2 separate regions of the Homo sapiens genome follow, and region 1 is linked to region 2. The links come from fine-mapping of genetic effects on gene expression. A gene starts in region 2. The other region holds a variant in brackets. All regions are shown on one strand. Distances are between the middles of the regions. Region 1 overlaps TSPO (translocator protein). Region 2 holds the start of TTLL12 (tubulin tyrosine ligase like 12).

Region 1 (4,370 bases), 24 kb before region 2:
CACTCGGAGGTGGGCAACGCTCCTGGCCTTGTTCCTAATGGTGCTCTGAACTGCGGCCTCTGTTTCAGGTACGGCTCCTACCTGGTCTGGAAAGAGCTGGGAGGCTTCACAGAGAAGGCTGTGGTTCCCCTGGGCCTCTACACTGGGCAGCTGGCCCTGAACTGGGCATGGCCCCCCATCTTCTTTGGTGCCCGACAAATGGGCTGGGTAAGTGTGGCCACAGCATGTGTCCCTGATCCCTGGATCCGACCCTTGGAGGACGTGGGGCATCACATATGACACTGGGTCAGTGTCTATAGGCGGGGCCAGGGGAGACAAAAGGCCATGTCTCTCTAGCTGTAAGCAGCCCACACCCTGGAGCCTCCCCTCTACTGACTCCTCCGGTGAGGGAAGCTATTAAAGCAGAAGGGGTTGCAGGGGTGGGTTTGGGGGCCACTGTGTAGGAAAACCCACACGAAGCCTGGTACTGTGTGGGCAGGGTCACTGGCCCCTCTACATAACAGCTTCTTCTTTTTTTTTTTTGAGACAGAGTCTCACTCTCTCACCCAGGCTGGAGTGCAGTGGTGAGATCTCGGCCCACTGCAACCTCCACCTCCTGGGTTCAAGTGATTCCCTTGCCTCAGCCTCCCGAGTAGCTGGGACTACAGGTGTGCACCACCACTCCTGGCTAATTTTTGTATTTGTATTTGTATTTTTTTAGTAGAGATGGGGTTTCACTATGTTGGCCAGGCTGGTCTTGAACTCCTGACCTCAGGTGATCTACCCGCCTTGGCCTCTCAAAGTGCTGGGATTACAGGTGTAAGCCACCGCGCCCGGCTGACTGCTTCTTTTTTAAAGTTTTAAACTTTTTTAAGAGATGAAGACTCGCTGTGTTGCCCAGGGCAGACTCGACTTCCTGGGCTCAAACGATTGATTCTCCCGCCTTTACCTCTTGAGTAGCTGGGACTCCAGGTCACGTCACTGTGCCCGGCAGCCTTTTTTTTTTGAGACAGAGTCTTACTCTGTTGCCCAGGCTGGAGTGCAGTGGCATGATCTCGGCTCACTGCAGACTCCACCTCCCAGGTTCAAGTGATTCTCCTGTCTCAGCCTCCCGAGTAGCTGGGATTACAGGCATGCAGCACCATGTCCAGCTAATTTTCTGTATTTTTTTTTTTTTGAGACGGAGTCTCGCTCTGTTGCCCAGGCTGGAGTGCAGTGGCGTGATCTCAGCTCACTGCAACCTCCGTCTCCCAGGTTCAAGCAATTCTCCTGCCTCAGCCTCCTGAGTAGCTGGGACTACAGGCACGTGCTACCACGCCTGGCTAATTTTTTTATTTTTAGTAGAGACGGGGTTTTACCATATTGGTCAGGTTGGTCTTGAACTCCTGACCTCAGGTGATCCACCCGTCTCAGCCTCCCAAAGTGCTGGGATTACAGGCGTGAGCCACTGCACCTGACAAATAGCAAGTTTTTGTTTGGGCCTTGTAGTAATGCTGGGAGGTCAGCATCGCTCTCAGTGGAGGCTCTAAGCTCAGAGAGGGGAAGGGACGTGCAAGACCTCCTAAGCCACCACCGCACCCTTGAACAAACCGAGTTCACTTCAGGCATGTCATGTGCACCCCACACAAGGCATGGGTCAGGTGGCATGACTGTTCCCATTTTACAGATGAGGAAACTGAGGCTGCGATGGGGGAGGGGCTTGGCCAGGTCACTCAAGGGTGGAGTGGGGGTGAGTGAGGCTCCTGACTCCCAAATCCAGTGGGAGTTGGGCAGTGGGACAGGCACTTGGGTGAACGCGGTGCCTCAGGCCTCCCCATCCTCCGTCCCCCAATCTCTGCAGGCCTTGGTGGATCTCCTGCTGGTCAGTGGGGCGGCGGCAGCCACTACCGTGGCCTGGTACCAGGTGAGCCCGCTGGCCGCCCGCCTGCTCTACCCCTACCTGGCCTGGCTGGCCTTCACGACCACACTCAACTACTGCGTATGGCGGGACAACCATGGCTGGCGTGGGGGACGGCGGCTGCCAGAGTGAGTGCCCGGCCCACCAGGGACTGCAGCTGCACCAGCAGGTGCCATCACGCTTGTGATGTGGTGGCCGTCACGCTTTCATGACCACTGGGCCTGCTAGTCTGTCAGGGCCTTGGCCCAGGGGTCAGCAGAGCTTCAGAGGT[G/T]GCCCCACCTGAGCCCCCACCCGGGAGCAGTGTCCTGTGCTTTCTGCATGCTTAGAGCATGTTCTTGGAACATGGAATTTTATAAGCTGAATAAAGTTTTTGACTTCCTTTACCATGGCCTTTTTGCTTGGGTGGGACCCCTGGCCACAGGGAAGAGGGGGAGCTGGGGCTGCACTGGAGCTCGTCTCTGCAGGATCTGCCTGGGCTGCCTTCTCCAGACAGGGCTGGATCCAGCTGGGGCTGCCCCACGCTTCCTGGGACGCTCCCGAAGCCCTGCAGGAGATGAACAGAGCAGCCCTGGGTGCCACCCTGGGGCCCACACTGGCGCAGACCCAGCTGGGGCCGTGGGCTTCAGCAGAGGGAGGGGGTCCTGTCCGCTTCCCATGGCTTCCGGGATGCTCAGCCCGGGCCCTTTAATGGCCGGGCCCACAACCACTGTTCGACGCCTGGTCCTGCCCAGTGCGTGGCCCTCAGCTGCTTTTACCCAGGACAGAGTTGGGGGTGCTGACTGCCCTGTCCCCCGGGGGCCCAGGCTTATGGCAGCCTCACTGCACCAGGGATAGCCCCGCAAACACCCAGTTGGCTCGAGGGGGAGTCAGAGGCAGGAAAGGTTAGGTCCCGACTCCAGCAGACAGGGCCTCCTTGCTGGCCCAGAGCGGCCAGGATTGGAGGTGTCACAGCCACTCACTCCCTCACCCCGGCTTCGAACTGGGTGACCCATGGCCTCTCCAGGCAGCTGTTTGGAGTAAATGAGCCGAGTCCCATACGCAGCACTCCTCCGTCTTGCTCTCGGTCACCACACCCATGCAGCACTCAGCAACACAGCCCGCGGCTCCCTCCCCTCGGCCAGGCCTGACCTGCCGGGCTTTTTGTTTTTTGTTTTTGGCAGCTAAGTTCATTCAAATTGGCAAAATGTTCATAGACAGCTCGTCATCACTCAACAGCCCGCGGCTGCTGCTTCCTCTTTTCTCCCCCGGCTCCTGTGTCCTCTCCCGACCTGTACGCTCAGACACAACCTGACGTTCACAAAAGCTTGGACACAGTGGCTCACACCTGTAATCCCAGCACTTTGGGAGGCTGAGGCGGGAGGATTGCTTGAGGCCAGGTGTTTGAGACCAGCCTGGGCAACATAGGGAGACTCTTGTCTATACCATCCACTCTGGTGCACGCACAACACACACACACACACACACACACACACACACACACACGAAAGAACGAACAGCTCAGGGAAATGGGTAGACAGTCGACTGCATTCTTCTGACAGAAGGGATGGCTCCCGCCCAGGGGCTGCGCTACTCCACCCTGACCCTCAGCCTCCCGCTCCCTTGACTCTGGCAGAGTTTGATGCCCAACAGATCACGCTCTGCAGGATCCAAAAACTCTGCGGCCACGGGCACTCAGCTGAGCCCTCAGCCCTCATGGCTTTCCCGATGCTCACCGGTGCAGAGGAGCCAGCTGGGGAGCCTCTGTGTATCCTTTTTATTAACTTATTTCTGAAGTTCTCCAAGACGCCCAGAGTTGAATTCCTCCAGAGCTCTGTGCAGACAGTCCAAGCAGCGGATGGCAGAGAGGTCCTTGCTAGCAAGAAACTTACAGGCCAGGCTGTCTCCTGCTCCAGCATGCCGGTGAGCATGCACCGTCCCCGCAGGGCACAGGGGTATCCTTTGAAGTGTCAAGGGACACCTGAGTCCGTGCCAGACACTTAGGGATTGGAGAAAGTGCAACCCAGACTTCTGCCATCTCCGCAACTCGTGGGGTTGTTCATCTGTAACAAATGTCCCACATAGCTCCTGCTGGCCACAAAACACGCACTGCCACAAAACGCCTTGGAAAAATGGGCGAGAGGAGAACGCATTTAGCATTTCGTCTGCCGGCTTCCTTTTAACAGCCTGGCGACGTTTCCCCAGGAAATGCTCGTAACAGACAGCATTCTCTCCTTTTCTAAGCTGCTGTCATCCACTGGGAACTTAAGGTTTTGATGCTTTCTGAGTGGGTTTATTTATTATTTTTTTTTGAGACAGTCTTGCTCTATCGCCCAGGCTGGAGTGCAGTGACGCCATCTTGGCTCACTGCAACCTCTGCCTCCCAGGTTCAAGTGATTCTCCTGCCTCAGCTTCCAGAGTAGCTGGGATTACAGGTGTGTACCACCATGCCTGGCTAATTTTTGTATTTTTAGTAGGATGGGATTTCAACACATTGGGCAGCCTGGTCTCCAACTCC
Region 2 (4,377 bases):
TCCGTCTCAATTAAAAAAAGAAAAAAATTATATATATATATATATATATATATATATATATATATATATATATATATATATGTATGTATCTTCAAGTTTCCCCATCCTTTCCAGGGCAGCCGGCCTAAGGTGAGGCAGGAGGGCTGATGGCCAGGGGTGTAAGGGCCCACAGCGCTGGCAGGTGCTGCTGCTGCTGGCGGCCTCCTCCACACCTGGGCCAGTAGCAGCAGGAGGCTTCACTCAGGAAGAGCTGCAAGTTTGTGAATGGTAAAGCAGTGATTCAGCTCTGTCCTTAACGGCTGGGGAAGGGTCACGGAAAAACACTGGCTGCCCCTTAGTAGGGCAACAGCAGGCAAGGCGGCCTGGGCAGGGGACGTGGCACGGTGGCGACCACCCTCTGTGTGCCAGGCATATTTCTCATGCCACCTCCCATCCTTCCAATACTGTGGGAGCCAGATGGTGTCTCACCATCCCCTTCCCAGATGGAGAACAGGTCTCAGACGGGCGAGTGACCGCCCGAGGGAGGGCGTGCTGCCGTGGAGGCTGGCTGGGCAGGAGCTGGTCATTCCCACTGTGCTCCTTCCACGCAGCCCATGGGAACCTTTTTGTCCTCATGAACAAACCAAGGTCCCTTCCACCCAGCACAGGCCTGGGACCAGAGTGGTCCTCGGAAAGCATATGGCAGAAGTGAGGGGCAGAGGAAACTCTCTGTTACACTGTAGCATAAGGAGGTGCCACTCACTGCACGTTTCCAGCAGGAAGGTTCCTAGTCCAATCAGGATTACACAGAGAAAAACTGGCTCAGAGACCGTAGAGTCTGGCCAGCAGCCAGGCTCAGGGACTCCTAGTTCCCGGCCCGGGTCCCTGTTCTTGGCTCTGGGGTTTCCACTTCATCACCTGCGCCACTAGGCTCATCTCCGTCCGGGAGACAGCACCTGGAGGAGATGTCGGGTCCCAGCTAAAGAAAACACCCCCCCCCCCGCCAGCCCGGGAAGGTGCTGTGGCCTCAGCCTCTGGGCACGCAATAAAAATCCAGGGCTCATCCCCAGCCAGGACAGTGGGGAACGCTTTGGAGTGGAGGAGGCAGGTGAGCCGGATGGGCCGTCCTCACAAAAAGGGAGAGAACCTAGAGGCTTCTCAATCTTTTCCATTTTTCTTTAGATTTCTCCTCCACCTCTCACAGCCTGTTTTCTTTAACCTGCAAGATGAGGGGACCCCGAGGCTCAAATCAAATGAAAAAACACCGAATTCTGTGAACCCAACAGTTACAGCTACACAAATTCACGGGGTTCCCGTTGTCCCTGTGAGGCAGCGGCTGAAAGAATCCCTCTGAAGGGACTCTCGGAGCCGCAGTGTTCTCATCTGTGAAGTGGGGGTGATGAGTTTCACTCCTCGCAGGGCTGTGTCAGGCTCGGGTGTGTGGAGGACCTAAAGTTCCCAACGCAGCCCTCAGCCGGTCTCGGGCCCGGGCAGATCAGGGCCGCAGGTACCCCGGTCTCCTGCTGTCACTCTTCGGCCCCCAACTCCACGCCGCTCCAGAGCTGCCCAGGACGCGCTCTGGGTGGCTCACCGCGGCTCCCGCCGCCCGGGAGCGCTCTTCCCTGTCCCGCGCCGCGGGCTCCCGCCGCGCTCCCACCCCGGCCGCCGCACGTGCCCGCCGCCCTTCCCCGCACCTCGTGCTCCAGCTTGTGCAGGAGGCGGCCCCAGTAACGTTCGGGGACCCCCGAAGCGCGCAGCGCCGGGCCGTGCAGCGCCGCGAACTCGGCCAAGGCCTGCGCGCCCTCCTCCGGCGTCTGGCCCGGGCTGCTACGCTCCGCAGGCCGGCGCTCGGGACCCCGCTCGGCCTCCATGGCGCCAGCACCCGCGCCGACTCCAGCGCCGCCACCGCCGCCGCCGCCCGCCGTCCGTCGGCCCTGCCCTCCCGCCTCCGCCCCCTGCCCCGCCCCGCCCTCCTCCCAGCGCCCCCCCCCCCGCCCCGCCCTCCTCCCAGCCCCCCCCCGCCCCGCCCTCCTCCCAGCCCCCCCCCGCCCCGCCCTCCTCCCAGCCCCCCCCGCCTCCGCCCCCCGCCCCGCCCGCCTCCCAGCACCCCCGCCCCGTCCTCCTCCCAGCCCCCCGCCCACCGCCCCGTCCTCCCCCCAGCCCCCCGCCCCTGCCGCGCCCCCTGCCCCCGCCCCCTGCCCCCCTCCCCACCGCCCCGTCCTCCTCCCGGCCCCCCCGACCCCTCCCCTGCCCCGCCCTCTTCTCGCCCCCTCACCCCGTCCCGCCCCGCCCCCAGTCCGCCTCCAGCCCGGTTTGCCGCGGCCCCCGGGCAGGCCCTGCGCATCGGCGGGGTGCGTGCGAGAGCGCGCGAGCTTGCCAGGAGGGGGCGCGCGTCTGCGACCGCGCCTGTGGTTTGGCTGCCGCCGTGTGCGCACGCGCACCTGATGGTGGCTGAGCTTTTCTCGCTCAGCGCGCGGCGACCCCGGGGAATGCCGGGAGGGCGGGGTGCCTACGTATAGGGCGCTGTCAGGACCGGAAAAGGCCCCACCGACGGCCCGGAAGGTGTCCTGGGGCCCGAACCCGGTGAGGCGGCGCTTCTGTGCCTGCACCGGGCACACAGAGCTCGCAGGCCCCCTGCCTTGGGAGCTCTCGATTCTTGTGAGCGTTTCACCAGATTTGGATGCTGCAAAATCGTGGCCCTTCTCAATTACTTATATTTGGATTCGGAATGTCAGTTGATCCAATTAAGACCAAGTGTACCCGTCAGAGGAATTTACTCCTACATGTCGGGATGTTTCGAAGTGCAGTTGAGCTGGGCGTGGTGGCCGCGTCTGTAGTCCCAGTTACTCGGGAGGCTGAGGCGGGAGGATAGCTTGAGCCCAAGAATTCAAGTCCAGCCTCGGCAACATAGCCAGACTCCCTCTTTAAAAGAAAACAGTTCAGTTATAGAATTTCAAAAGACATTCTCTTTTGAACTCTCATTGAGTTTTATTGCTCCATAGGGATACATTTCAATGTCTTCCTTTTTGCAATTTTGTAAGAATTGTAATTTGCTAAAAAACAAAGGCTGAAAATTTTTTGGAGCTTCAGATGCTATTTTGATAACATTTTTGAACTGAGTTTGAATAAAATGCACCAATTCACGGACTTGTTCAATTCCATTGTAGGAAGCAGGTGGGTCTGCAAAGGCAAAAATTTCCAAACTCAAGTTGGTGAGGGCTGCAGAGAAAAACATTTTATTTATTTATTTATTTTGGGATGGAGTTTTGCTCTTGTTGCCCAGGCTGGAGTGCAATGGTGCAGTCTCGGTTCACTGCAACCTCTGCCTCCCGGGTTCAAGTGATTCTCCTGCCTCAGCCTCCCAAGTAGCTGGGGCTACAGGTGTGTGCCACCACGCCTGGCTAATTTTTTGTATTCAGTAGAGACAGGGTTTCACCATGGCCAGAGGAAAACCCTGATTCCTCGGTTTTTGTTGTGGAAGCCAAGGCTGAGATTGTACCATTGCACTCCAACCTGGTCAACATAGCGAGACTCCATCTCAAAATAAATAATATAGTAAAACAGCATCACAATGCTAGGATGGGGCATGCTGGCTCACACCTGTAATTCCAGCACTTTGGGAGGCCAAGACAGGAGGATCACTTGAAATAAGGAGTTTGAGACCAGGCTGGGCAACAAAGCAAGACCTCGACCCTACAAAAAGAAATTTTTAATTAGCCAGGTATAGTGGTACACACCTAGTGCACCTCCCGCTTCCACAACCCTTCCATCGGTCCCGCTGGGGAAGACAGACTGAGTCTCAGTTGTGTCAGGTACTGGTCAGATTATGTGAACATTCCTGACCCAGCCCCTTTGACCAGGAGAATGTGAGGCTCTGACAGGGCAGTCCTCTTTCACATGCTCCTCCCCAAATGTAAACCCAGTTGTATCAGATCCCTACTTGGAACCCTTTGTGGTTCAACTCTTCACCTGAGCTCCAAGGCTCTGTGTGAGCTGGCACTGCCAACTTTTCCAGCCTCTTTTCATTACACTCTTCCCCTCACACTGTGAGTCCCTGTATCTCTGGTTGTCTTCAGCTCCTGGAAAGCATTGTGCTCTGTTTTCTGCCAGAAAGCCTTTCTCCCCATGCTCACTTTGTAAATCCTGACTCATTCTTCTCAGCTGAAATGTTGTCTTCTAAAGAGGCACTGAAGAATGTGTATTTAATCAACATAAAATTACTGCTCTGCTCCCATTACTGCCACCAACCCCCTCCCCCTCCAGACAATTGAAAAAAAGGAGAGAGAGAAACAGGGAAAAAAAAAAGAGTTTAAAAGTCCCTTCCATAGCCGGGCACAGTGGCTCATGCCTGTAATCCTAGCACTTTGGGAGGCCAAGGCGGGTGGATCACCTGAGATC

The links. PIP is the estimated chance that this variant, and not a neighbour inherited with it, causes the effect. A credible set is the group of variants that fine-mapping cannot tell apart.
Region 1: its variant is the best candidate, but not a certain one, in a credible set for the expression of TTLL12 in whole blood (INTERVAL, PIP 0.50).

Annotation. Positions count from the first base shown.
Region 1 is chr22:43,160,984-43,165,353 of GRCh38, forward strand. TSPO (translocator protein) reads left to right here. Exons shown (of 4, transcript NM_000714.6): 3 at 69-207; 4 at 1,820-2,259. The coding sequence ends at 2,008. Among named protein-coding and RNA genes, the nearest start is that of TSPO, 12 kb to the left of the region's middle. RefSeq lists enhancers at 2,063-2,566, 2,567-3,069. The variant G/T (reference allele first, on the strand shown) is at 2,148.
Region 2 is chr22:43,185,220-43,189,596 of GRCh38, forward strand. TTLL12 (tubulin tyrosine ligase like 12) reads right to left here and starts at 1,915. Exons shown (of 14, transcript NM_015140.4): 1 at 1,674-1,915. The coding sequence starts at 1,850. RefSeq lists enhancers at 566-1,070, 1,011-1,090, 1,101-1,160 and silencers at 1,541-1,760, 1,801-1,960, 2,209-2,328.